Linked DNA regions of Homo sapiens. The protein of the gene in region 1 purifies or fractionates together with the protein of each later gene. This does not show direct contact. Each region holds a gene or a part of one and is shown in the gene's direction. Other genes may lie near its edges. The genes, in order: OTUD4, RPTN, HRNR, PRMT8, TMBIM4, ELAVL2 and GPHN.

Region 1 (3,500 bases):
GGTTGCAGTGAGCCGAGTTGCGCCGCTGCACCACAGCCTGGGTGACAGAGTGAGACTCTGTCTCAAAAAAAAAAAAAAAAAAATTCAGACTTGCAGTGTAAAAAATACGCTGAGTGTAAGTAATGCTGAACCCTTAATTTTATCAGAAGGCATTCATAGGTTTTTAATTTTCAGGGTTCAGTGTGAACTCACATGTCAGAACATTATAATTATGTAAGTAGTGATTAATAGTTAATAAAATGTTGTATAACAGCTTAATATAATTTTCTCAGTAGTATGTGAAATAAGATGCCACAGTGACCTGTTTTCATTTTACATTCAAAGTCTTACAGGATTTATTACTTACTGGTTTTAAGACCTAGAATTATGTAATCTGACAACTTTGGGTGTTATTTCCCCCAGTTGACTGGTAGAGAATGTTGATATAATACTTTGCAAATGATAGGCTTGAAACCTTGTTTTATTAAAAAAACCTGGTAACGCAGAGGCTAGATAAGAGAGTGCAGAGGTGTGGTAGAGAAGGGAAGTGGGGAGGTGGAATGGTCTTTAAATTAATTCTTATTAATCATTGGCCCCAGAGGGTAAAACTGTGTTGATAATAATGGACATTGCTAACATTGGTTGAGGTGCTTACTATATGCCAGGCATTAAGTGTTTTGCATATATTTTTTTTAGTCCATATAATTTTTTTTTTTTGAGACAGAGTCTCGCTCTGTCGCCCAGGCTGGAGTGCAGTGGCGCCATCTTGGCTCACTGCAAGCTCCGCCTCCCGGGTTCATGCCATTCTCCTGCCTCAGCCTCCAGTGTAGCTGGGTCTACAGGTGCCTGGCACCATCACGCCAGGCTAATTTTTTGTATTTTTAGTAGAGATGGGGTTTCACCATGTTAGCTAGGATGGTCTCGATCTCCTGACCTCATGCTCTGCCTGCCCCGGCCTCCCAAAGTGCTGGGATTACAGGCGTGAGCCACCGTGCCTGGCCTTAGTCCATATAATTTTATGAGGTATGATCAGAGGTTGAAAGTTCCATGGGGAAAAGTTTCACTTTCCTTTTATGAACCTTCAAGCAGTTTCAGTTGTCCAGAATTGGAAAGAGATGTTGTAGAAAGTATTATGCCTTGTTACTGACATTGTTCAGCCATGGCATAGGTGGACGCTTTCTGCTCAGAAAGGAGACTCTCAGAGAGGATGCAGGCTTGTGTCAGAATTCTGCAGTCTCTAGTAACTTTAAATGGTTCTGTGTTTTTTTTTTCCTTAGACCTATAATCATCTAATACAGAACAGTAGCCCTTTATTGGTGGGCTCTTTAATATATATGGCTCTTTTATTATAAATATCTTTCGAAATTTAAGATATTTTTGGCAATTTGACATTATATAATCTATGAAAGAATCTCAATCTTAAAATCCAAGGGTGCTTAAAAGATTTTATAGACAAGGGAGTATACTTTAATGTCTTTAAGTATATCTCTGCTAAATCAACTGGGACTGTAATTTAAACGCAATTGAATTTGGTGGTTCAACAAATGACTTTTAGAGATTTCTCAAATGAGTGCGATTGCTATTAAAGAAACATAAAAAAGGTTGTGTTATTACACAGCTTGAATAAACTGTTTTTATGTCAAAGTAACAATGAAGCGATGAAGCAAGCTGTATTAGAAAAATTTTGTTGATGCTTCAAAATATTTTTCGCCTTACTAGTTCTCATCGCTCTTTCTAGTATCACTTGAGAGACAATGAGTACTCTTATCTGTATTATTAAGCTATACTATTTCTTAGCTTGTAAGTCAGTCTTTGTTTTATTCCCTTCTACACACTGGTCACTACCAAGTTAAAGCACTGCTTTCATCATATAATTTCTCAGTTCAGAATGTCACCTGAAGTGGCCTTGAATGGCCTTTCTCATCTAGCCTTCAAGTCCTGCCTGGGCTCAAGGCCCTCTGTAAACAGGCCCCCCTTTGGGTTCTTCTCCCACTCAGTTCCACAACAGGTTGTCCTGCTCCAGCTGGCCAGATTGCTTGTCTTCCCAACACAGTGTTCCTCTTCCTCCTCACGCCACATTGGCCCTCTCTGTAGAGTATCAGCTGCCTGTTGCCATCCAGATCCTGTCCAGCATTCATCTTGAGTCACTCTTCTTTCAGGAAACCTTTCCTGACAGAATTTCCTTCTTTAAATTCTTTTGTATGTTTATAGTCTTTAATGATTGCTATATGTTTTCATAATTAGATTATGTACATATTTTTAAATAATACTGAGGTATTTTAGGTTTATGTACAAACTCAGTAATTCACAGTGAATGTTTACACAGCGAAGCGGTTAACTGTTTTGGCATATATGTTAGATGACATTTCTAATAGATTTATTTTTTGCAGTTTATAGAAGGATCATTTGAAGAATATTTAAAGCGTTTGGAAAATCCACAGGTATGTCACAGTCTTCTAGTATATTTCTATTTTTATATATCCAAATAATGTATTTAAAATTCATTAAAATAGAAGATTACTATTACAGTGTATAGAGGAGTTGCAGTGACGGTGTATCCTATTTCCTTATAAACGTTTCCTACACATTTTATGCAGCACTTAAGTTGGAGCTATATGTTAGAGGTTGCCTCACTAAGGCAGAGTTGTGATATTTTATCTTGGCTATAATGGCATGTAAATGTAGTATAAAAATCTGAAATAATACTGGGGTGATGATTTTCAGAATGCTACGTTGGTGTGTGTATGGAACTTGGACAGGGTGAAGTTTGATTTCTTTTTTTTTTTTTTTGAGGTGGAATTTAACTCCATTGCCAGGCTGGAGTGCATGGCATGATCTCGGCTCACTGCAGCCTCCGCCTCCCGAGTTCAAGCGATTTGTCTCCCGAGTATCTGGGACTACAGGCGTGCACCACCATGTCCAGCTAATTTTTTTATTTTTAGTAGAGATGGGGTTTCACCATATTGGCCAGGATGGTCTCGATCTCTCGACCTCGTGATCCGCCTGCCTCAGCCTCCCAAAGTGCTGGGATTACAGGTGTGAGCCACCACACCTGGCCTGCAGAGTTTTTCTTCCTAGGCAACTGAGAAGGCAGAGTTCTTTCATGCAGGTTCCTATTTCCATGATCATCTCGTGAAGAGGGAAGAGACTGTTGAGACAGAAAAGGATAGCACTTACTCACCAACTCCTGCTGCTATACTTTTTCAGTCATGTTTATGTTAAAAGGATTTTTCTTAATTTTTCTGTTTACAAAACTAACGTTCTCACTGTAAAAATCCAAGTATCTTGGAATGCCATTTAGAATGTTAAGGTAAAAATAACATTGGCAAAGAAAAAAGCTAAGAAGAGTTAAGGAGTAAAGGGAATGTAATGTAGGAACCAAGGGTGTTTGATCGATGACTGATGTATCCATTTGGTTGCCTAACACTAATTTGAGTGCTTGTTATGGGCCAAGAATTCCTAGTCACCCTGGGGATGCAGAGATAATGTAGATAACAAAAAAGTTTCCCTATCATAGGAAA
Region 2 (3,134 bases), on another chromosome or scaffold:
CAGAGTTCCCACTACGGTCAGACGGACAGACAAGACCAGAGTTATCATTATGGTCAGACAGACAGACAAGGCCAGAGTTCCCACTACAGTCAGACGGACAGACAAGGCCAGAGTTCCCACTACAGTCAGCCAGACAGACAAGGTCAGAGTTCCCACTATGGTCAAATGGACAGAAAAGGCCAGTGTTATCATTATGATCAGACAAACAGACAAGGCCAGGGTTCCCACTACAGTCAACCAAACAGACAAGGTCAGAGTTCCCACTATGGTCAGCCAGACACACAAGATCAGAGTTCTCACTATGGTCAGACAGACAGACAAGACCAAAGTTCTCACTATGGTCAGACAGAGAGACAAGGCCAGAGTTCCCACTACAGTCAGATGGACCGACAAGGCCAGGGTTCTCACTACGGTCAGACAGACAGACAAGGCCAGAGTTCCCACTATGGTCAGCCAGACAGACAAGGCCAGAATTCCCACTATGGTCAGACAGACAGACAAGGCCAGAGTTCCCACTATGGTCAGACAGACAGACAAGGCCAGAGTTCCCACTACAGTCAGCCAGACAAACAAGGCCAGAGTTCCCACTATGGTAAGATAGACAGACAAGACCAGAGTTATCATTATGGTCAGCCAGACGGACAAGGCCAAAGTTCCCACTATGGTCAGACAGACAGACAAGGCCAGAGTTTCCACTATGGTCAGCCAGACAGACAAGGCCAGAGTTCCCACTACAGTCAGATGGACAGACAAGGCCAGAGTTCCCACTATGGTCAGACAGACAGACAAGGCCAGAGTTCCCACTACGGTCAGACAGACAGACAAGGCCAGAGCTATCATTATGGTCAGACAGACAGACAAGGCCAGAGTTCCCACTATATTCAATCACAGACTGGGGAAATACAAGGGCAAAATAAGTACTTCCAAGGGACTGAAGGAACAAGAAAAGCCTCTTATGTTGAACAATCAGGAAGATCAGGGAGGCTAAGTCAACAGACTCCAGGACAGGAAGGGTACCAAAACCAGGGACAGGGATTCCAGTCTAGGGACTCACAGCAGAACGGCCACCAGGTATGGGAGCCTGAAGAGGATAGCCAACATCACCAACACAAACTCTTAGCACAAATCCAACAAGAAAGACCACTTTGTCACAAAGGGAGAGACTGGCAATCATGCAGTAGTGAGCAGGGCCACAGACAGGCCCAGACCAGGCAGAGTCATGGTGAGGGGCTGAGCCACTGGGCAGAGGAAGAGCAGGGCCATCAAACTTGGGATAGACACAGCCATGAGAGTCAGGAAGGTCCATGTGGGACACAGGACAGGCGAACCCATAAAGATGAGCAGAACCATCAGAGACGAGACAGACAAACCCATGAACATGAGCAGAGCCATCAGAGACGAGACAGGCAAACCCATGAAGACAAGCAGAACCGTCAGAGACGAGACAGGCAAACCCATGAAGACGAGCAGAACCATCAGAGATGAGACAGGCAAACTCATGAAGAGGATCAAAACCATCAGCAACAACATAATAGACAAAACTATGAGGAGAAAGAGAGGTATCAAGGATCTCAGAATCAAAAATCCCAAGTGACCCACAGAAGCTGTCCTAACAGAGAAAAATTCCACATGAAAGAGGATGACCAGAGCCAAGGCTCACAGAAAAGACACACTGAACCATCCTTCTATCCAACCCAGAGCAGTGGGAGGCCCCAAACCAGAGAACAGCGTGGTCACCCTGCCAAGGGAGCTACTGTTCCCAACCCCCCCTATGACTATGTGCAAGAGCAGAAATCCTACCCATACTAGGCTATGTGAGCACCAGAGGTAAAGCAACACAAAGCCAAAAAAGAAACCTATATGTCGAGTTCACCTTTAATTCGATTTAAGAGATTGAGAATGTATTTCTTCCCTCTATCCTCTGCTGTATCTCCCTGCAAGGATGTTTTTGAGTACTAGCATTCACGTAAGGGCTTTTGGTTCTTTGAGCAGCAATTCTAGGGTTTTCTGATTCAGTGAAATCTAGGTGGTAAATTGGGTGAAATAATCATATCTTAATGTTGATCAGTTTGGGTATTTAAATCATTTCCTGCTTTGCCCTCTGTGTAGATGAGACCTGGTTGAATCATTGAAAGGTAGAACACTTCTCCCTAAAGTTCAGAAACAGAAAAGATATTCTGAAGATTTACATTACATCCAAGGATTATACTACATCTCCACTCCTCAAGGAACCCTAGATTTGGTGAGCTTTGGCTCCTGTGGATAAAACATCAGGAATTTCAAGCCTCATAGTCTAGACTAGAATGAAACTCAGTTCAAGGCTGCTACAAGAGCCGAGAACATAGAGTGCATCTCTGATGTTTACTACATCTCCCATGCCAGGCTCTTATTCCACACCAGAGGGACTGTCCATTAGTGCCTATCACTAGAGCTGAATGGACCCATTCCAATTCAATACCTTTCTAGTTTCTGATTATATAAAATAAAGAGAAAGTATATGTCATATGTTTGCAAATTCCAGGGGATCAAGACTATTGATTCATAGCTCCTAAGACCTGAAAACTCTTCTCAAGAAAATCTATGTGCAGATTATGAATTGTATTAAAATATCTAATAAATAATTGATGAGCAATAACTGTCATGACTCCTTTCTTCACTGTGGGGTTGTACTATTTTCACTTTTGAGCCATTTTCCAAAAATAACACCTTATTTCTTGACTTCTAAAATGTCTTTGTTCCCTGAGTTCCTGGGCACTGAAAAAAAATAAGAATCAATACAAAACAAATAATAAAGAGTCTAAATGAAACTTATCTAAATATAATTTTCAGCTCCTCCTCCCTCTACTGAGTCATATTTTACCTTTACCACTCCCTCACCACCACATTCAAATTGTCATTGAGTCTTCCCAACTCTACATCCCCATAACTTTTGAATCTCTTCTCACGTCTCCATCTCCACTGCCTTAATGGCCCTTCTCCTCAGTGGCTCCCCAGTGACTTGAGAAAAAAATTTACATCCCTCAGTGTGGCACATAGGCCTCACTATCTGATCAGATGACCTACCCAGCCTACTCACATGACAGGCCCCTCCCAGGAGCATCCAATGCTCCAGCCACACCAAGGACTTGGCCTTT
Region 3 (3,500 bases), on another chromosome or scaffold:
GGAAGTCTTAAACCTGGGACTGAATCCATATCCAGAAGACTGAGTTTTCAAAGAGACTTTTCTGGCCAACATAACTCCTACTCAGGTCAGTCTTCCAGCTATGGTGAGCAAAACTCCGACTCCCATCAGTCTTCAGGCCGCGGCCAATGTGGGTCTGGGTCAGGGCAGTCTCCCAACTATGGCCAACACGGCTCTGGCTCCGGACAGTCTTCCAGCAATGACACACATGGGTCTGGCTCAGGCCAGTCTTCTGGCTTTAGTCAACACAAGTCTAGCTCAGGGCAGTCCTCTGGTTACAGTCAGCATGGATCTGGCTCAGGTCACTCCTCTGGCTACGGACAACACGGCTCTAGGTCAGGACAGTCATCTAGGGGTGAACGACACAGATCTAGCTCAGGTTCGTCTTCCAGCTATGGTCAGCATGGGTCTGGTTCCCGTCAGTCTTTGGGCCACGGCCGACAAGGGTCTGGATCTCGCCAGTCTCCTAGCCACGTCCGACATGGGTCCGGTTCGGGGCACTCCTCCAGCCACGGCCAACACGGGTCTGGCTCAAGTTACTCTTACAGCCGTGGCCATTATGAGTCTGGCTCAGGCCAGACTTCTGGCTTTGGGCAACATGAGTCTGGCTCAGGACAGTCCTCTGGCTATAGTAAGCATGGTTCTGGCTCAGGTCACTCCTCTAGCCAGGGACAACATGGATCTACGTCAGGGCAGGCATCAAGCTCTGGCCAACATGGCTCCAGCTCACGTCAGTCTTCCAGCTATGGTCAGCATGAGTCTGCCTCCCGTCACTCTTCAGGCCGCGGCCAACACAGCTCTGGATCTGGCCAGTCTCCAGGCCACGGCCAGCGTGGGTCTGGGTCAGGGCAGTCTCCCAGCTCCGGCCAACATGGGACTGGCTTTGGTCGATCTTCCAGCAGTGGCCCATATGTGTCTGGTTCAGGCTACTCTTCTGGCTTTGGTCACCACGAGTCTAGCTCAGAGCATTCCTCTGGTTACACTCAGCATGGATCTGGCTCAGGTCACTCCTCCGGCCACGGACAACACGGCTCTAGGTCAGGACAGTCATCTAGGGGTGAACGACAAGGATCTAGTGCAGGTTCATCTTCCAGCTATGGTCAGCATGGGTCTGGCTCCCGTCAATCTTTGGGACACAGCCGACATGGGTCTGGATCTGGCCAGTCTCCTAGCCCTAGCCGTGGCCGACATGAGTCTGGTTCCAGGCAGTCTTCCAGCTATGGCCCACATGGGTATGGCTCAGGGAGGTCTTCAAGCCGTGGCCCATATGAGTCTGGCTCCGGTCACTCTTCTGGCTTAGGTCACCAAGAGTCTCGCTCAGGACAGTCCTCTGGCTACGGTCAACACGGATCTAGCTCGGGTCATTCCTCTACCCATGGGCAACATGGTTCTACATCAGGACAGTCATCGAGCTGTGGCCAACATGGAGCTACCTCAGGTCAGTCTTCCAGCCACGGTCAGCATGGCTCTGGCTCAAGTCAGTCTTCTCGCTATGGCCAACAGGGCTCTGGATCTGGCCAGTCTCCTAGTCGCGGCCGACATGGGTCCGATTTTGGGCACTCTTCCAGCTACGGCCAACATGGGTCTGGCTCCGGTTGGTCTTCAAGCAATGGCCCACATGGGTCTGTCTCAGGCCAGTCTTCCGGCTTTGGTCACAAGTCTGGCTCAGGGCAGTCCTCTGGTTACAGTCAGCATGGATCTGGCTCAAGTCACTCCTCCGGCTACAGAAAACACGGCTCTAGGTCAGGACAGTCATCTAGGAGTGAACAACACGGATCTAGCTCAGGTTTGTCTTCCAGCTATGGTCAGCATGGGTCGGGCTCCCATCAATCTTCGGGCCACGGCCGACAAGGGTCTGGATCTGGCCACTCTCCTAGCCGTGTCCGACATGGGTCCAGTTCAGGGCACTCCTCCAGCCACGGCCAACACGGGTCTGGCACAAGTTGTTCTTCCAGCTGTGGCCATTATGAGTCTGGCTCAGGCCAGGCTTCTGGTTTTGGGCAACACGAGTCTGGCTCAGGACAGGGCTATAGTCAGCATGGTTCTGCCTCAGGTCACTTCTCTAGCCAGGGACGACATGGATCTACGTCAGGGCAGTCATCAAGCTCCGGCCAACATGACTCTAGCTCAGGTCAATCTTCCAGCTATGGTCAGCATGAGTCTGCCTCCCATCACGCTTCGGGCCGCGGCCGACATGGCTCTGGATCTGGCCAGTCTCCAGGCCACGGCCAGCGTGGGTCTGGGTCAGGGCAGTCTCCCAGCTATGGCCGACATGGGTCTGGCTCCGGTCGGTCTTCCAGCAGTGGCCGACATGGGTCTGGCTCAGGCCAGTCTTCTGGCTTTGGTCACAAGTCTAGCTCAGGGCAGTCCTCTGGTTACACTCAGCATGGATCTGGCTCAGGTCACTCCTCCAGCTACGAACAACACGGCTCTAGGTCAGGACAGTCATCTAGGAGCGAACAACATGGATCTAGCTCAGGTTCGTCTTCCAGCTATGGTCAGCATGGGTCTGGCTCCCGTCAGTCTTTGGGCCACGGCCAACATGGGTCTGGATCTGGCCAGTCTCCTAGCCCTAGCCGTGGCCGACATGGGTCTGGTTCCGGGCAGTCTTCCAGCTATGGCCCATATAGGTCTGGCTCAGGGTGGTCTTCAAGCCGTGGCCCATATGAGTCTGGCTCCGGTCACTCTTCTGGCTTAGGTCACCGAGAGTCTCGCTCAGGACAGTCCTCTGGCTACGGTCAACATGGATCTAGCTCAGGTCATTCCTCTACCCATGGGCAACACGGTTCTACATCAGGACAGTCATCGAGCTGTGGCCAACATGGAGCTAGCTCAGGTCAGTCTTCCAGCCACGGTCAGCATGGCTCTGGCTCAAGTCAGTCTTCTGGCTATGGCCGACAGGGCTCTGGATCTGGCCAGTCTCCAGGCCACGGCCAGCGTGGGTCTGGGTCAAGGCAGTCTCCCAGCTACGGCCGACATGGGTCTGGCTCCGGTCGGTCTTCCAGCAGTGGCCAACATGGGTCTGGCTTAGGCGAGTCTTCTGGCTTTGGTCACCACGAGTCTAGCTCAGGGCAGTCCTCTAGTTACAGTCAGCATGGGTCTGGCTCAGGTCACTCCTCTGGCTACGGACAACACGGCTCTAGATCAGGACAGTCATCTAGGGGTGAACGACACGGATCTAGCTCAGGTTCGTCTTCCCACTATGGTCAGCATGGGTCTGGCTCCCGTCAGTCTTCGGGCCACGGCCGACAAGGGTCTGGATCTGGCCATTCCCCTAGCCGCGGCCGACATGGGTCCGGTTTGGGGCACTCCTCCAGCCACGGCCAACATGGGTCTGGCTCAGGTCGTTCTTCCAGCCGTGGCCCATATGAGTCTCGCTCGGGTCACTCTTCTGTCTTTGGTCAACATGAGTCTGGCTCAGGACATTCCTCTGCTTACAGTCAGCATGGTAGTGGCTCAGGGCACTTCTGTAGCCAAGGACA
Region 4 (3,500 bases), on another chromosome or scaffold:
AGTCTTCCTGGGAATTGGGAGCATGTCATCAGGGGGTGAGGAGGTGAGTAGTTGTATGTCTAGTAGGGGGAGTGGGAAGGTGAGTTCTACCAGAAATCGAGGACATGATTCTTTACTTCCAGAAGCCATGAAGAAAATGATGCTTTTTTTTTTTTTTTTTTTTTTTTTTTCTCAGAGACAAGGTCTCACTCTGTCTCCCAGGCTGGAGTGCAGTGGCACAATCATAGCTCACTGCAGCCTTGACCTCCTGGGCTCAAGCGATCCTCCTGCCTTAGCCACCCAAGTAGCTGGGACTACAGGCACATGCCACCATGCCTGGATACTTTTTAATTTTTTTTTTTTTTTGGTAGAGATGGGGTCTTGCCTCATTGCCCAGGCTGGTCTCAATGATTCTCTTTTACCTATGGAAAGAGAGGGCAAGAGACAGATTTATCTCTTCATAGAAAGGCTTTTCCCAGAACCAGTGCCTCCTGATTACTAAGATTGGGACTTTTGGTCTCCGTCAGCCAGGCAGTGCTGGTGCTTTCCTGCCCTGATCTGGGTCATTATCAGCTGCTGCCCTCCTCACAGGAGCAGTACATGTCTTCCCAGTGGGCAGGAGCAGCCAGGAGGGGGAAGGTGGATTTTACTTTGATCTTGAAGGATTGGGAAGACTGTGCCTAGCAATGGTGAGAGTAGGGGTAGTGAGGGAGCTGGGGAGGAGCCTTCTTGGGGACAGTGGCTGTGATTGGAAGCTAAGGATGAAGTCATAGGAGCTGGCTCTGCCTATTCCATCACCAGGATGATGTCTAACCCAGAGCCTGCCCTGCTGATGAGAAAGTCCATGGGCAAGGATGCTCTGGGAAAAGTTCTAAGTTTCCAAACCCCAGGCTCTATCCCTGCAGCTCTCAGCCATAGTTTTATTTTCCTTGAGATGATCTATTAATATTTCTAGTCTCCAAAGTCAAGCAGACAGCCTGCTGGACCCTGTCTAGAGATGGCTCCCTGGCTCTGGGGTGTTAGGGATGACATTCTTCATGGTCCCATGTGGAGGAGCCTGGATTAAGCTCACATCCAGAATCAAGACATCGGCTCTGGGCTGCCTGAAAGATGGCGAGGATTTGCCCTGAGTGTTGAAGGCTCTAACCCAGTGGCTTTCCTTCCTAGTCTTTGGTCACACCCCCACCACAGTCCTACGTGGCTCAAAGACCAAGGATCTAAACCCAGTTGTGAGCCTACTCCTCTTTTTGCAATTATAGTGTTATGCCTCCTCCCTTTTGCACAGAATTCTACAAACTTAGGTTCTGAAAGACATTTGGAGGTCCTACAGTCTCCAGTTTGTCATGCCTTGGGGAAGTGGTTCTCAAAGTGTGGTTCCTGGACGGGTAACACCAGTATCACCTGGGAAATTGTTAGAATTGCAAATTCTTGAGCCTCACCCTGGACCTCCTGAATCAGAAACTCTGGGGGTGGGGGCCAGCCGTCTGTGTCTTAACAAGACCTCCAGGTGATTGCGATGCATGCTCCAGCTTAAGGACCACTGCCTCTGTGCAAGACTGCCCTGAACCAGAGGGTTGAGAATTTGACCAATGTTGACTTTCTTCTGGAAAGGCTATTCCATCTCCTCACTCAGGTATACCCTCAGGCCTCACCAAGACTCTTTGCTTTCTGGCTGACGTAGATCCCTCTTCTTGGCACATGCCTATATGGGTAGCAATGGGGGTGGGAGAATACTTTGTTGAGTTGCTTTCTCAGCCACCTTCGCGTGTCAGCGTGGGGGCTCTGTTTCTAGCAGGTAGCAAACTTCTTTCCCAGTTCATGTGGGTTAGCAGTGGGGTATACTCAGACCATCTATATTCTGACAACTGACCGAGTAACCCTTTCTGTTTTTATGGATCTCAGATGCACAGACTTAGATTAATCCTAATTCTTGGCTCATGCCATATGTCATTATTGGACCATTCATGGTTCACTTTTTTTGCTAATTTATATATTAATTATATATAATTATATTATATATTAATATAATGAATATCCATGAACTCACCACATAACTCAGCAACTAGAATATAAATTAATTACTATTAACTAGAATGTAAATAGTAACTAGAATGAATTAATAAATACTAACAAAATAAATTAATAAATACTAATAAATTTATTAGTATTACTATTAGAAGGTAAATACATTAGTTAATATTAAAAATAAATTGTTTTTAACTAAAATATAAATATTGACTAGAAAGACATGGTAATAACTGTAATATAATTATAATTAAATGTAAATCAATTAATGCATATTTGCATTAATTTGCTTACACTTATTGATTCGAGCTATGCCCTGACTCAATGACTGAAATGCTGCCAACACCTCTGCATCTTCCTGGATGCCCCACCCCATCCCACCTCCCGTATCGCCTCCAGATGAACATTATCCTGAATTTTGTGTTCCTTATTCCCTTGCTATTTATGAAAAGTTTTATCACATGGATGTGTGTGCCTAAACAAGGTATTGTTTGGTCTCAGCTGTTTTTGAACTTGATGCAAAGTGTAGCCTGCTGTGTGTGGTCCCTCTGCATCAACCCCCAACTGAGTCTTCTGTTCTCAGCCCAGTGGTAGCGCGCTCTGCGGGCCACTTAGAAACACATCCCATACCGCACAGCCTGAAAAATGATCCCTTCTAATGACTCTGACGTCTCTGCAGCTCCAGGCAGAAGCTGTCACAAATAGGCACAGACAGCCAGGGTTCCAGGCTGTGGCAGCCAGTGGGCACGGTGCCCCCCCCACCACAACACATCCTCAGTGGGGTGGGGGTAGAAGTGGGAACTGGGGCCCCTGGGGCTGCTGTGTAATCCAGGAAAGCCAGGTAGCAGGTGGAAGGGCAGGAGCCCCAGCAGAAGCAGGCCTGGGTGCAAGCCCTGGTTTTTTCAGGTATCAGCAAGGTAGGCAGATCAGACATTGGAAAGGACTTTGGGCAAGTTTACTTTCTGCGCCTTGGGCTCAGGCAGCTCCTTTCTGCCATTGACATCCTGTGACATTGAGTCATTTTCCCACATTAAAGAAGCTTCTTGGTGCATAGTCCTCAATTCTCCAAAAGGCCTATGAATTCTCTAGAGAATATAATTCCAAACTTACAGCTAGAAAAATTATATCCCAGAAAGGACGACCAGCCACTTAGCCATTGGTCAGTGAGATGGGAAGCAGGATTCCATTCCCTTTCCAAAAGCACCAGGAAAACTCTGGTGAGAGGCCAGTCCCTGCCATTTGTACCCTCAGCTCCCTGTGTTCCCAAGCCCCATCCTTGGTCATAGTGCCCACCCTACTTCTCACTATTTGCCTGAATGTCTTCTCACTGAGGCTGTATGATCGGGGGAGGAGGGGACAAAGTGGTGTTCATCCCGTTTGCTGTTCCCCAATTCTACAGCCATACCCGGCCTGTGGCAGGCATCCTAAGTGGAAGTCTGTGGAATGGTGAATGAATGCACTGCACTAGGAATGCTGCAGGCAGTACTGGTCATGCT
Region 5 (4,207 bases), on another chromosome or scaffold:
GCCGAGATAGAGCCACCGCACTCCAGCCTGGGTGACAGACTGAGACTCTATCTCAAAACAAACCAACAAAAACAAATTAAAATGATATGCTTGTAAAATGTTTGTAAAATCATAAAAGATAAAGTGTTTTTTTGTTTTGTTTTGTTTTTCTTGTCATTGTGGAAGTGACGTTAGTTCTTTTGGCAAAGGCTTCTGAGAACATCAAGTTTAAGGATTTAGTTTAGAATAGACTGTTCCACAACTGTTCTGAATTCCACTTGCTAAGTGTTCGGGTGTTGTGGTTAAGGTGAGGACTGGGCAATGTGGGTAGATCAGAGTAAACTCATCAAAACAATTCCAAGGGACCCTAGGATGACACTACTCTGGGTATGTCTACACCTCTTTATATTGGAATGACAACAATATCATGAATATTCACTCTAATCCATTGTATTTGCCACCATCATCTCTCTCTTACAGTAATACAACTTTATCCCCTTTTCTCTGCCTTTGGTAATGGCCCTCTTCAATGTATTCTACTTCTGGCCTAGGATGATCTGGCCTTTGTTTATCTATCCAGCCTCATTCTTTGCCACCTGTCCCCTACACCAGCTGAGCTTCACCGTCTCCCTCTTTGCAGACGTTGGTCCCTTGAGGCCCAGCCTACATCACTGCTCTTTCTCTGGTTGGCTCCTACTTGCCTTTCAGGATTAAATATTACTTCATTCAGAAAGCCTGGTTTATAGAAAGTGCTCAATAAATGTAGGTATTATTATTATTTTAAAATAATAGAAGTAAAAATGCATCCTCGGTGTGATTATTGAAAAAGTGGATGAATGAGATGGGTATTTGTTGAGTGGATGGGTGACTGGGACATGGGTTCTATCACTTTAGCAACTCTCCAAGGTGAAAGGACTTAAAGTGTGTTCAGGCTGGGCGCGGTGGCTCACGCCTGTAATCTCAGCACTTTGGGAGGCCGAGGCGGGCGGATCACGAGGTCAGCAGATCGAGACCATCCTGGCTAACATGGTGAAACCTCGTCTCTGCTAAAAATATAAAAAAATTAGCCTGGCGTGGTGGCAGGCGCCTGTAATCTCAGCTATTCGGGAGGCTGAGGCAGGAGAACCGCTTGAACCCGGGAGGCGGAGGTTGCGGTGAGCCGAGATCGTGCCATTGCACTCCAGCCTGGGCAACAAGAGTGAAACTCCATCTCAAAAAAAAAAAAAAAAGTGTGTTGAGAAAAGTTTCACTTCAGATGACGCCGGGAATGTAAACCGTTTTCTCTTCCATTCTAACTCGGAGCCATCCCCGCTTTCTCCGCCCAGCTGGAATTTTTGAAGCGAGAAAATCGACTCGCTCGGTGTTCGCCCGCCGACGCCGCACGGCTTGCTGGGGCTGGGCTCTTCCTCGCGGAAGTGGGGAGGAGGCGGTTGCGGTTAGTGGACCGGGACCGGTAGGGGTGCTGTTGCCATCATGGCTGACCCCGACCCCCGGTACCCTCGCTCCTCGATCGAGGACGACTTCAACTATGGCAGCAGCGTGGCCTCCGCCACCGTGCACATCCGAATGGGTACGTTGTCCCCTCTCCAGTGCCTCCCAGCCGCTTGTCTGCACTGCTCGGCCTCTAGAAGCCGACTTCCGGCTTCCGAGGGAGAGCGGCCATCTCCTGGGACTCACAGGGAGTGCTCACTGAGCTCCCGGCCCTCCTTCTCCGGGTACCAGAGGACTGGCGCCCTCCTCAGGGAGTCGGGGAGGCGCTTCCTCCCCTCCTAGCGGGTGTGGGAGGGCGCCAGGCCCAGAAGGCTTGCGGCTGTCCTGTGTGCGCCCCGGCTCCCCAGCGGGCGCCGCGGTGTAGGAAGGGACAGATGGAAACCGCCGCAGCCTGAATTTGGCATCTTGAAGTGAAAAGAAACGTCGTGGAAATGAGTCGGTTGATCACTGTGACTGACGTACACACGAGTGGAATCCACGGCCTGATGTTTTTGTTCTGTGGGGTTTCGCGTTACAGGCTTATATTTACCGTCCTGTGCTAGGCTGGAAGCTCCCTGACGGCACTATTTCCTCTCCGCAGGGCCCAGAATGCAACAGGTCTTTGAGGATTATTGAGGAAGTTGCTCAACACAGAAGCTTCCTAAGTCAGTCTAAATTGTGTTTTAAGTTATTACGTAGTAGCCAATGGGCAGAAATTTTTGAATTTAAAATGCTCAGCTTCATCTACGTGGAAGCCATTGCCTGCTCTAGTTTGGTCATTTGATCGCCGAAACAGCCCCAGACTTTCAGCCTGTTTAGGCAGCTGGAACTTGTTCTGGAAAAGGAAAGATGAAGATAGTTCTGATGTGCTAAGAATCTTAGTGCCTAGAACTTGTTCTGGAAAAGGAAAGATGAAGATAGTTCTGATGCACCAAGAATCTTGGTGCCTAGCATTTATATTTTTGGAATTGAATTTTGAAATTATTTTGGCCAGTGAACTCAGCTTTTTTTTAAAAAAAATTAATTGTGGTAAAATACAGGTAACATAAAATTTACCGTCTTAACTATTTTTAAGTGTATAGTTCAGTAGTGTTAAGTTATTCACATGGTTGTGCACTGTTAAAAGAAAAACTTTAGACACATTAAATCTAACGGAGTTTGAGCACAGAATGATTTGCGAATTGGGCAGGTCCCGGAACCAGAATAAGGTTCAGAGTGATGAGTCCTGCCGCTTGGTGGGAGAAAATTTATGGAGAGAGAAAGTAAAGTGAGGTACAGAAAATAGAAGTGAGGTACAGAAAGAGTTGATTGGTTACAGCTTGGTTTTTGCCCGTTTGAACATGGTTTGAACACGTGGCCATCTTTGGCTGAAACTCAGTGATTGGTTCAAGCGTAGGTTACAGCCTGTTTACTAGGTTATAGTTCACTATATACCGAGAACCCCTAGGCTGAACTTAAAATATCTAAAGGCATAGCTTTAGACTAAACTTATATACCATCCAATATCCAGAACTTTTTAATCTTGCAAAACTGAAACTCTATACCTATTAACTCCCCATTCCTTCCTTCCCCCAGTCCCTGGAACCACCATTTCACTTTCTCTCTCTGTGAATTTGGCTACTCTAGATACAATCAGTATTTGTTTTTTTGTGGTTGGCTTTTTTCAATTAGCATAATGTCTTCAAATACATCCATGTTGTGGCATATGTCAGAATTTCCTTTTTTTTTTTTTTTGAGACAGGGTCTCGCTTTGCCACCGAGGCTGGAGTGCAGTGGTGAGATCACTGCTCACTGCAGCCTCTACCTTCTGGGCTCAGGTGATCCTCCCGCCTCAGCCTCTCGAGTAGTTGGGATTACAAATGCAGGTCACCAGGCCTGGCTAATTTTTTTGTACTTTTGGTAGAGACGGGTTTCTCCATGTTGCCCCATCCGATCTTGAACTCCTGGACTCAAGCGATCCTCCCACCTCAGCCTCCCAAAGTCCTGGGATTACAGGCATGAGCCACTGCACCTGGCTGCAGAATTTCCTTTTTAAGACAGTAGTAGTACTTTGTATGTATATACCAAATTTTGTTTATTCATCCATTGATGGACATTTGTGTTGCTTCTACCTCTTGACTACTTTGAATAGTGCTGTCATGAATATAGGTGTGCACATACCTCTTCAAGACCGTGCTTTAATTCTTTTGAATATATACCCAGAAGTGGAATTGCTGGATTGTGTGGTAGTTCTATTTTTAATTATTTAAGGAACGGCCATACTGTTTTTGATAGGGGCTACATCATTTTACATTCTCAGCAACAGTGCACAAGGGTTCACCTTTTTCTACATCCTTGCCAACACATTCCGTTCTTTTCTTTCTTTTTAAAATGAAAATAGCCATCAAATGAGTGTGAGGTGGTATGTCCTTTTGGTTTTGATTTGCATTTCTCTAATGATTTAATGATGTTGCACATTTTAAAAGTATGCGTGTGGGGCATTTATACATTTTCCTTGGAGAAATGTTATTCAAGTCCTTTGCCCAATTAATTTTTTAAAAGCAATTTTAGGTTCATAGCAAAATTTAGCAGAAAGAACAGAGTTCTTATATACCCTTTCTGCTTTTCCCCAAGCCTCTTGCACTAATAACGTTCTGTACCAGAGTGGTATGTTTGTTACAATCAGTGAACCTAGACTGGACACCTCATTATCACCCAAGACCAAGGTTTACGTTAAGGTTCGCTCTTAGTGTTGTATATTCTATGAGTTTGACAAATG
Region 6 (3,500 bases), on another chromosome or scaffold:
ATAAAGGATTATTTAAATAAAAAGTTTAGAAGTCTTTATGGCTTTTTGGAAGTACCTGTGTGTATAAAAGTAGAGACAATCTTCTATTTCCCAATAAAACCTACGCTTTCACCATAGTAACAGCCATTTTACCTTGGAGCCCAGTGAAAGTTTAGAATATTCTAGATTCATCTATGCTAAAGTGCCTTTTCGTAAATTATTACTTGGATAATAACAGGAGGAAAAGCAGTCTGAATTGGCACAAGTGATGTCTAAATTAAGAGGAGAATATATATTGAAACATTATTTTTTTAAGCCTTAAAATTAATGGCTCTGTTTCACTGGAATATGGCCTTTTTTTTCTTTCCGAAGAGTTTCAGAGCCAGTGGAATCTATAAATAGTACACAGCCCAGTTGTCTGTGGTAGATTGAGTAGAGCAGAATTGCCTGTCCTTAAGTGAAGGGGAAGTAGCTTTACATTTTTAGTAACTGAATTGTTGGCCAGCATAAAGGTAAGGGCCATGTGAGCAACTTATTTATAACTTCCCATAAAGGTATGTGTCTGCCTCAAGCGGAGAAGACTGTCTGGGGTGCTTGAAATGTAAAAGTGCAGTAGAATCATTTTCCATACACAGCCTTCCTATCTAGTTGGTGCAATAAAGTGATTGTTCACCTCCCTGGGGCTTTCAGAAAGAGGGGTGTCAATAGATTAGCTCATTAGTGTCCACCTCCTATGAAATAGAAGGGACTGAGGCAGTTAAATTAAAATCTGTTTTATGTAGTGAGCAATGTTTAGATTGAACTCCTGAAGGTATTCAGGACATACATTTATGCCTGCTTTACCCTGCTGGGTGTGGTCCTGCTCATGTAGTCTTAACTACAGTTGGGTTCTTATGAAAAATCTTTCATGGGTGTAAAGCACTTTTTCACAGGTTCAGTTAAACTATAAGTAGTTTTTTGAAAAATAACATAGGGTCAGACCAAAATCTCTTGTTACAGTGGGAGAACGGAAGAAGAGTAAAATATTTTCATGGCTTCCTGTAAAAAAGTATGTTAATCCTTTTTGATAGATGCCAGAAAGTGGAATCCATCGTTACTGGCGGCATTGCTAATATCAAGAGTAAATCACAGCCAGGATTGCCTCTCAGGATAAAATTTTTATAATTATCAATAAGTAAAAGACATTTTTGGACCTCTTCTGTTATTCACTGTCTATTTTTAGAAACTAAGTTTTCTGATTATATTGACCATTTGAAGCATCTGCATATATGGCAAAAAAAGTAAACTTTGGCTTTTGTGCCAATATCATGGCTCTGTTTGGTATTTGGGCAAGTTTCAATAAGTGGTAAATGGCCCATTAACTATATTGGAGGCCTCATAGCAGCACTAATTTCAAATCGTGCTGGGTTTACAATTTACATATTAAAAAATGTTCACTTGATTTCGTTCAGGGACAAAGCTGACATCCTATGCGAGCATTACTCCAAACAATCCTATTTATCGGTCCAATTATTTCAATTGAAAGATGCTGGTTTACTGCCTCTTAGTATATGTGAGCAATTCTCATTGAAACTGTTAGAAACCGTTTGACTGTAGTGGCAAAATAACCTCACAGGGTTTCGATTCACTTTTAATTTTAAGTCCCAGGATTAAGGATCATTTATAGTATAATGTAACAGTGTGGGCAAATATAGCTTCTCTTAATGTCTTTCTGATATTTTGGGGAAAGAGTGCTTTTATGCAAACCAATCACTTAGGAATTGCATGATGACTTTTTCCCACTATAAAATTTCATTCACATTTCCTCCCTTCTCCCACATCCTTAAGAGATAAGACAGCCTGCAGTATTTTGCTTTATTTTACTTTATTTTTTAAATTTTTGAGGTGTGGTTTACATTAGTTCTTCAGAATAGATGCCAAGATAACTAGTTAATACTGTTTTAAAATCAGGCTCTTAATTAAAAATGCTTATATTTGTGCAAGAAAACTACATGTTGAAATGAATTTGGAAAGATTAGATTGGAATTGCCTCAATTTCAATTAAGCCACACTGCATGGACGTGCTGGGAATATCAATACAATCACTGTAAATTTTGTACAAACTGATTTGTTGCATTATCTTGCTCATCTAACATACGGTACTTTTTGTGTCCATATTGCAGACGGCAACTCCAAACTAACATGGCAGTCAGACTGTGTGATGTGGCTTCTCTGCTTAGAAGTGGTTCGTGGGCAGCAGAGCCTTGGACCGGGGTCTGTGGGATTTTTCTTAAATTCTGTAGGCTACTTTTTTTTAGCATGTTGGAGGAGTGCTGAGGCCATACCAAACACTTGAATCTTTCATTTGGCATACTAATTATTCTTACATTTAACCTATTGTGGTATGGCCATCATTAGGACTTAAAGCACATTGCAATTTTAACTGTAGTGGTGTATGTAGCATCAGAACCATGCTCTCGTATGTAATTTTTTTACAATCTAAATTAGGATTTAGCGCAGACTCAAAAGAGTGACAAGCTTTTTTAAAAAAACAAAAAAAGTTTTGGTATGGTCTGAATACTAAGTTACCGTAATTCTATACATTCTGTTTACTATGTATTTTTTTGGTTACTAAATTTTGAAGTTATTTACAATTCTTTATGCTCCAAAAAAAAAGTTGAAATTGTAAATCTGGCTGAAAATTATTTGCCCAGTAACTGTTGAAAGAGTTTGCATTCTGTGAACAGTTGTGTTGAGCCTATCAATGGAATATGCATTATTTGTAAAATATAGCACATTAGTATCATTTTATTCTGAGCAGATGGTCCTATAGCAGAGAGATGCTGTAATTTTCAGCGCACACAGCCTACTGCAGCTGTTCACTTGAATGTTGGCTTAGGAGCTCATTCTTGCCACCTGAACATGGAAATAAATGTGCAATTAAGTGAGGAGTGTTTGTTGTCCTTTCTAAATCTTGCTGATTTCAGTCAATGAACACTTTGTATTTCAAATGCTATCCCAATGAGCTTTAGTCCGAATCTCCCATTCGGGTCTCTTGTAGTTTCTACACCCATCCAAACTTTTCAGTAGTGATTTAAGTGTCTTTGGCCACTTTAATCTTGTAGCTCATTGTTTCCATAACTGCTGGGCAAGGGTTAACCCCAGAAGAATTTTTGCTGTGAAAAGAGTGACCCACAGCTAATATTCTACAAACCAGAACAGTTATGTTTAATTAGGAAATCTGAAACTTCCCTTTTCAAATTCAAATAGATTTGCTAATTATAATAAAACCCATATCTTGAATTATTTAAGATTTTTAAATACAGATTTCCAAAGGTTTATTTTCCTTCATCCCTTTAAGTATTCCCTGAGAAAACTTAGCTTACGTAGAGAAACAGCTTGCAGCTTGTAGAATAAATTCCCACTTCTTTGACAAGGAAATGAAGTCACAGAGGGGTTACAGGTTGTTGGATATTTCAAAAGCTATTCTGGATTTTGCCTCATGTTTTTTTATCATGACAGCACTGATTCTTGTTCAGTCT
Region 7 (3,500 bases), on another chromosome or scaffold:
CCAAAGGATAGCTTTGCTGCATATAGTATTCATAGTTAGAAATTTTTTTATTTCAGCACTTTGAAGATGTTATCTCCTTTCTTCCTGTCCTGTAAGGTTTCTGCAGAGAAATCTACTGTTAGTCTAATGTGGATTTCATTATATATGACTTGATTTGGAGACCTTTGGAATTCCTGGACCTGGATATCCATACCTTTCCCCAGACTTGGGAAGTTTTCAGCTATTATTTTATTAAATAAGTTTCTTATGCCTTTTCCTTTCTTTTTTTCTGAAACTCCAATAATATGAATATTTGTTCTTGTATGGTGTCCCATAAGTCTTACAAGCTTTCTTCACTCTTTTTCATTCTTCTGTTTCTCTCTGTCTCTCTCTCTTGCTGGGTATTTCAAACAACCTATCTTCCAGTTCAAAGATTCTTTCTTCTGCTTTATCAAGACTGCTATTGAAGCTCTCTATTGTAATTTTTTATTTCATTTTTTGAATTATTCAGCTGTAGGATTTCTGTTTGGTTCTTTTTTATGATTTCTCTATCTTTGTTGAATTTATCATTCTTATGAATTGTTTTGCTGATTTTGTTGAATTATCGCTAGGTTTTGTTTTTGTTTTTGTTTTTGTTTTATCTAATTGAGTTTCCTTAAGATCATTATTTTGCAATTTCTTTTCCAGGAGTTCATTGATTTCCTTTTCATTGGAGTCTGTTACTAGAGATGTATTCCTTTAGTGGTGTCATATTTCCTTGCTTTTTTGTGTTTCTTGTGTCCCCATGTTGATCTGTGTGCCTAGTGGAACTTTTGCTTCTTTCAGACTTTCTGGGTGGTTTTGTAGAGACGCCTGTAGTTGGGCTTTAGTGTGTTGGTTGCAAAGGGTATGGTGACTTTCTGGACAGGTGCAATGGTGTAGTCTCCTTGCAGCTTTTTCAGTTGCATTCAATGTCAGTAATAACTGTGAGTACCTCAGTGGCCTAATCCATAGAAGTTTGTGTCAGTGGTAGTAGTGGCATAGGCTGTTAATATCCTTGGTGTCAAGGGCTTTTAGAGTCCTCCTCTTCTTGTTTTCCACACAATAGGGAGAATCAGCTGAAGGGATCCCTCTTGGTGTTAGGTCTGACATGCCCTCCAAGCAGCTACAGTGGCACTGGGCTCAAAATATGGTGCTTGGAGTGACTGTGGAGCCAGGATCCAAGGCTCAGGGTCTTGTGAATCCATTGTGGCACCTGGTTCTTGGGGTTCAGGTTCACTCTCTGTGGCAGAGTTGGGTGTAGGTTATCCAAAGAACCAAGGTTTATGACTGAGGCACCCCCTAGCAGCTTGGACCCAGGTGCCCTGGTTGTACCTGTGATTTTATACCTCATGGGTAGGGTGTAGTACTGACCAAACTCCAAAGAAAAAGGTTTTGGCCAGGGGAGCAGGGTATGGCCGCAGCTCAGGAACCAGAGCCAGTAGGGCTCAGCAGCAGCTCGGGTCACAGTGGATAAGGTACTGTGTAGTAGTGACCCTAGACCCCTGGATGGTGGGGCTACGCAGGTCCTCACTTCAGACTCTGAGGCCAGGTGCAGAAGCAGCAGATACCTTAGAATGGCAGAGCGCAGCTGTGGTTTGATCCCCGGGGGGGCCAAGGATCAACACAGAAATGACTCAACTCCCCAGAGAGGGGGGTATCTCAGCAGCTCAGACTCTAAGGGGCTATAGTCTAGCTCCAGAGAAGCAGGGTACTAGAGTTATTTGGCCTGTAGGTCAGGATATCTTGGCTCAATCAGCACTCTGTTTCCCTAGGACATGAGTGACTACATCAGCTCAGCCTGGGATGCGTAGGTGCTCAGCTTGGCAAAGTGTGTGCAACATACTTTCTAAGCCTTGCCATAACAGAGCAATATGTCTGGAAAAAGGATGATTAAAGAAGATTAGAAACTATCTCCAATGTCTGGATGGAGTTAAGGGAAACCAATAAAGGAATCTGCAGCACCCAGGAGCTAGCAACAGTGAGATTTCCTTACCACATCTTAGTCTGAAGGAGCAAAGAAAGACAATGGTACCTGAACCTGGGAAGATTCATATCTGTGGGAGAGGACTGCCCAACAGCAGCTCTTGCTCTCAGTAGGAGAGATGCCCTAACCATCACCAAACTGCAGCCCAGGAGGAAAAGAGCAAGGGGAATGAAAACTCTACTTTTCTGTCTCTCTCCTACCCTCTACATCTCTTACTGACCCCTCCCTTTGGCTGAGTCTCACCAGACGCCAAAGTGGTGGGAAACTGGTTAAAATAGTCCATAGAGGTCAGCTTCTGGACCACAGCACAGAGTAGAGAATGATGATGTGATCTGGAGAGGCAAACAGAAAATGAAACAAATCTTTGTCTTTGTAAGGCTTATATTCTGTAATATATAATGCACTTAACATTGTACCTAGCATAGATTGTGGGTTCAATAAATATTAGTTATTGGTAGTATTGCTTACAGTAATAATATTATGGAGAGAAGATTTTTAAGACTTTTGTAATAAATTTCCTGTTTTACTTTGATTGTACTTTCAGTAGTAAGGTATTTTTTTTTCTTAACCATTCCCTAAGGGGTGTGTGTGTGTGTGTGTGTGTGTGTGTGTGTGTGTGTGTGGTTTATTTTACTTTGTCTTATTTTGGTGGTTAAAATAACAACAATGACAAAACATACACACACATAACATTAAATATACCATCTTGACAGTTTTTAAGCTTATAGTTCAGTAGTGGTAAATATATTCACATTGTAGGGACTTAAGATTTTAAATAGAGTCATGAGTTACTTAATGAAGATATATTCTGAGAAATATGTTGTTGGGCAATTTTCTTGTTGTCCGACCATCATAGAGTGTACTTACACAAACCTGCATGAGTAGCCCACTACACACCTAGCCTACATGGTGTGACCTGTAGCTCCGAGGCTACAAACCTGCACAGCATATTACAGTATTACTGAATACGTAAGCAATTATAATGGTATTTGTTTATCAAAACAAAAAGTACAGTAGAAAATATGGTAATCTTATAGGACCACCATCATATATGCAGTCCAACATTGAGCAAACTATCCTTATGCAGCACGTGACTATACTTATGAGGCAGACATCTTTAGAAAGGAATCTTTTGGCAGGGGGGATTAATATTGTCTCAGGATTTTTTCTTAGGGAGAATTTGAAGCATTCATTTTCCAAACTCCAGTCTAAATCATTGCCCCTGACAAGTGACTTTCAGATCACTTCTCTATCAGATCAAATCTATCAGATGAATCTTACAGAAAAATGCTTTTCCTCATGTTGTAAGAAGTTAGCAGGGAAGGTTCTGTCTCTTATACCATCAATATGAGAGCACAAACAATGAAAATCTTGTTTTTCATTTTCAAAAGTAATGTTTAACCTAGGTCATTACAGACACTGGAATCATTTTTAAATGATTTAATTATATTTGCTCAACCTCTATTATTAATTGATAGGTGAGCTAATGTGTTTTAGAATATTTTCAAAGGCAATA

What was found.
Region 2: the proteins of OTUD4 (region 1) and RPTN purify together in Homo sapiens (affinity purification with mass spectrometry, with the first as the bait; one large-scale study listed by BioGRID). This does not show direct contact.
Region 3: the proteins of OTUD4 (region 1) and HRNR purify together in Homo sapiens (co-immunoprecipitation; one large-scale study listed by IntAct). This does not show direct contact.
Region 4: the proteins of OTUD4 (region 1) and PRMT8 purify together in Homo sapiens (co-immunoprecipitation; one large-scale study listed by IntAct). This does not show direct contact.
Region 5: the proteins of OTUD4 (region 1) and TMBIM4 purify together in Homo sapiens (co-immunoprecipitation; one large-scale study listed by IntAct). This does not show direct contact.
Region 6: the proteins of OTUD4 (region 1) and ELAVL2 purify together in Homo sapiens (affinity purification with western blotting; one study listed by BioGRID). This does not show direct contact.
Region 7: the proteins of OTUD4 (region 1) and GPHN purify together in Homo sapiens (affinity purification with mass spectrometry; one large-scale study listed by BioGRID and IntAct). This does not show direct contact.

What each region holds. Positions count from the first base shown.
Region 1 is NC_000004.12:145,170,590-145,174,089, reverse strand, and holds part of OTUD4 (OTU domain-containing protein 4), read left to right. Parts: intron 1-2,369; coding exon 2,370-2,420; intron 2,421-3,500.
Region 2 is NC_000001.11:152,153,095-152,156,228, reverse strand, and holds the end of RPTN (repetin), read left to right. Parts: coding exon 1-1,485; 3' UTR 1,486-2,634; downstream 2,635-3,134. UniProt on the Homo sapiens protein: Involved in the cornified cell envelope formation. Multifunctional epidermal matrix protein. Reversibly binds calcium.
Region 3 is NC_000001.11:152,217,694-152,221,193, reverse strand, and holds part of HRNR (hornerin), read left to right. Parts: coding exon 1-3,500. UniProt on the Homo sapiens protein: Component of the epidermal cornified cell envelopes.
Region 4 is NC_000012.12:3,585,203-3,588,702, forward strand, and holds part of PRMT8 (protein arginine N-methyltransferase 8), read left to right. Parts: intron 1-3,500. UniProt on the Homo sapiens protein: S-adenosyl-L-methionine-dependent and membrane-associated arginine methyltransferase that can both catalyze the formation of omega-N monomethylarginine (MMA) and asymmetrical dimethylarginine (aDMA) in proteins such as NIFK, myelin basic protein, histone H4, H2A and H2A/H2B dimer.
Region 5 is NC_000012.12:66,167,197-66,171,403, reverse strand, and holds the start of TMBIM4 (protein lifeguard 4), read left to right. Parts: upstream 1-1,407; 5' UTR 1,408-1,452; coding exon 1,453-1,549; intron 1,550-4,207.
Region 6 is NC_000009.12:23,763,741-23,767,240, reverse strand, and holds part of ELAVL2 (ELAV-like protein 2), read left to right. Parts: intron 1-2,141; coding exon of another isoform or gene 2,142-2,232; intron 2,233-3,500.
Region 7 is NC_000014.9:67,106,147-67,109,646, forward strand, and holds part of GPHN (gephyrin), read left to right. Parts: intron 1-2,227; exon of another isoform or gene 2,228-2,316; intron 2,317-3,500. UniProt on the Homo sapiens protein: Microtubule-associated protein involved in membrane protein-cytoskeleton interactions. It is thought to anchor the inhibitory glycine receptor (GLYR) to subsynaptic microtubules.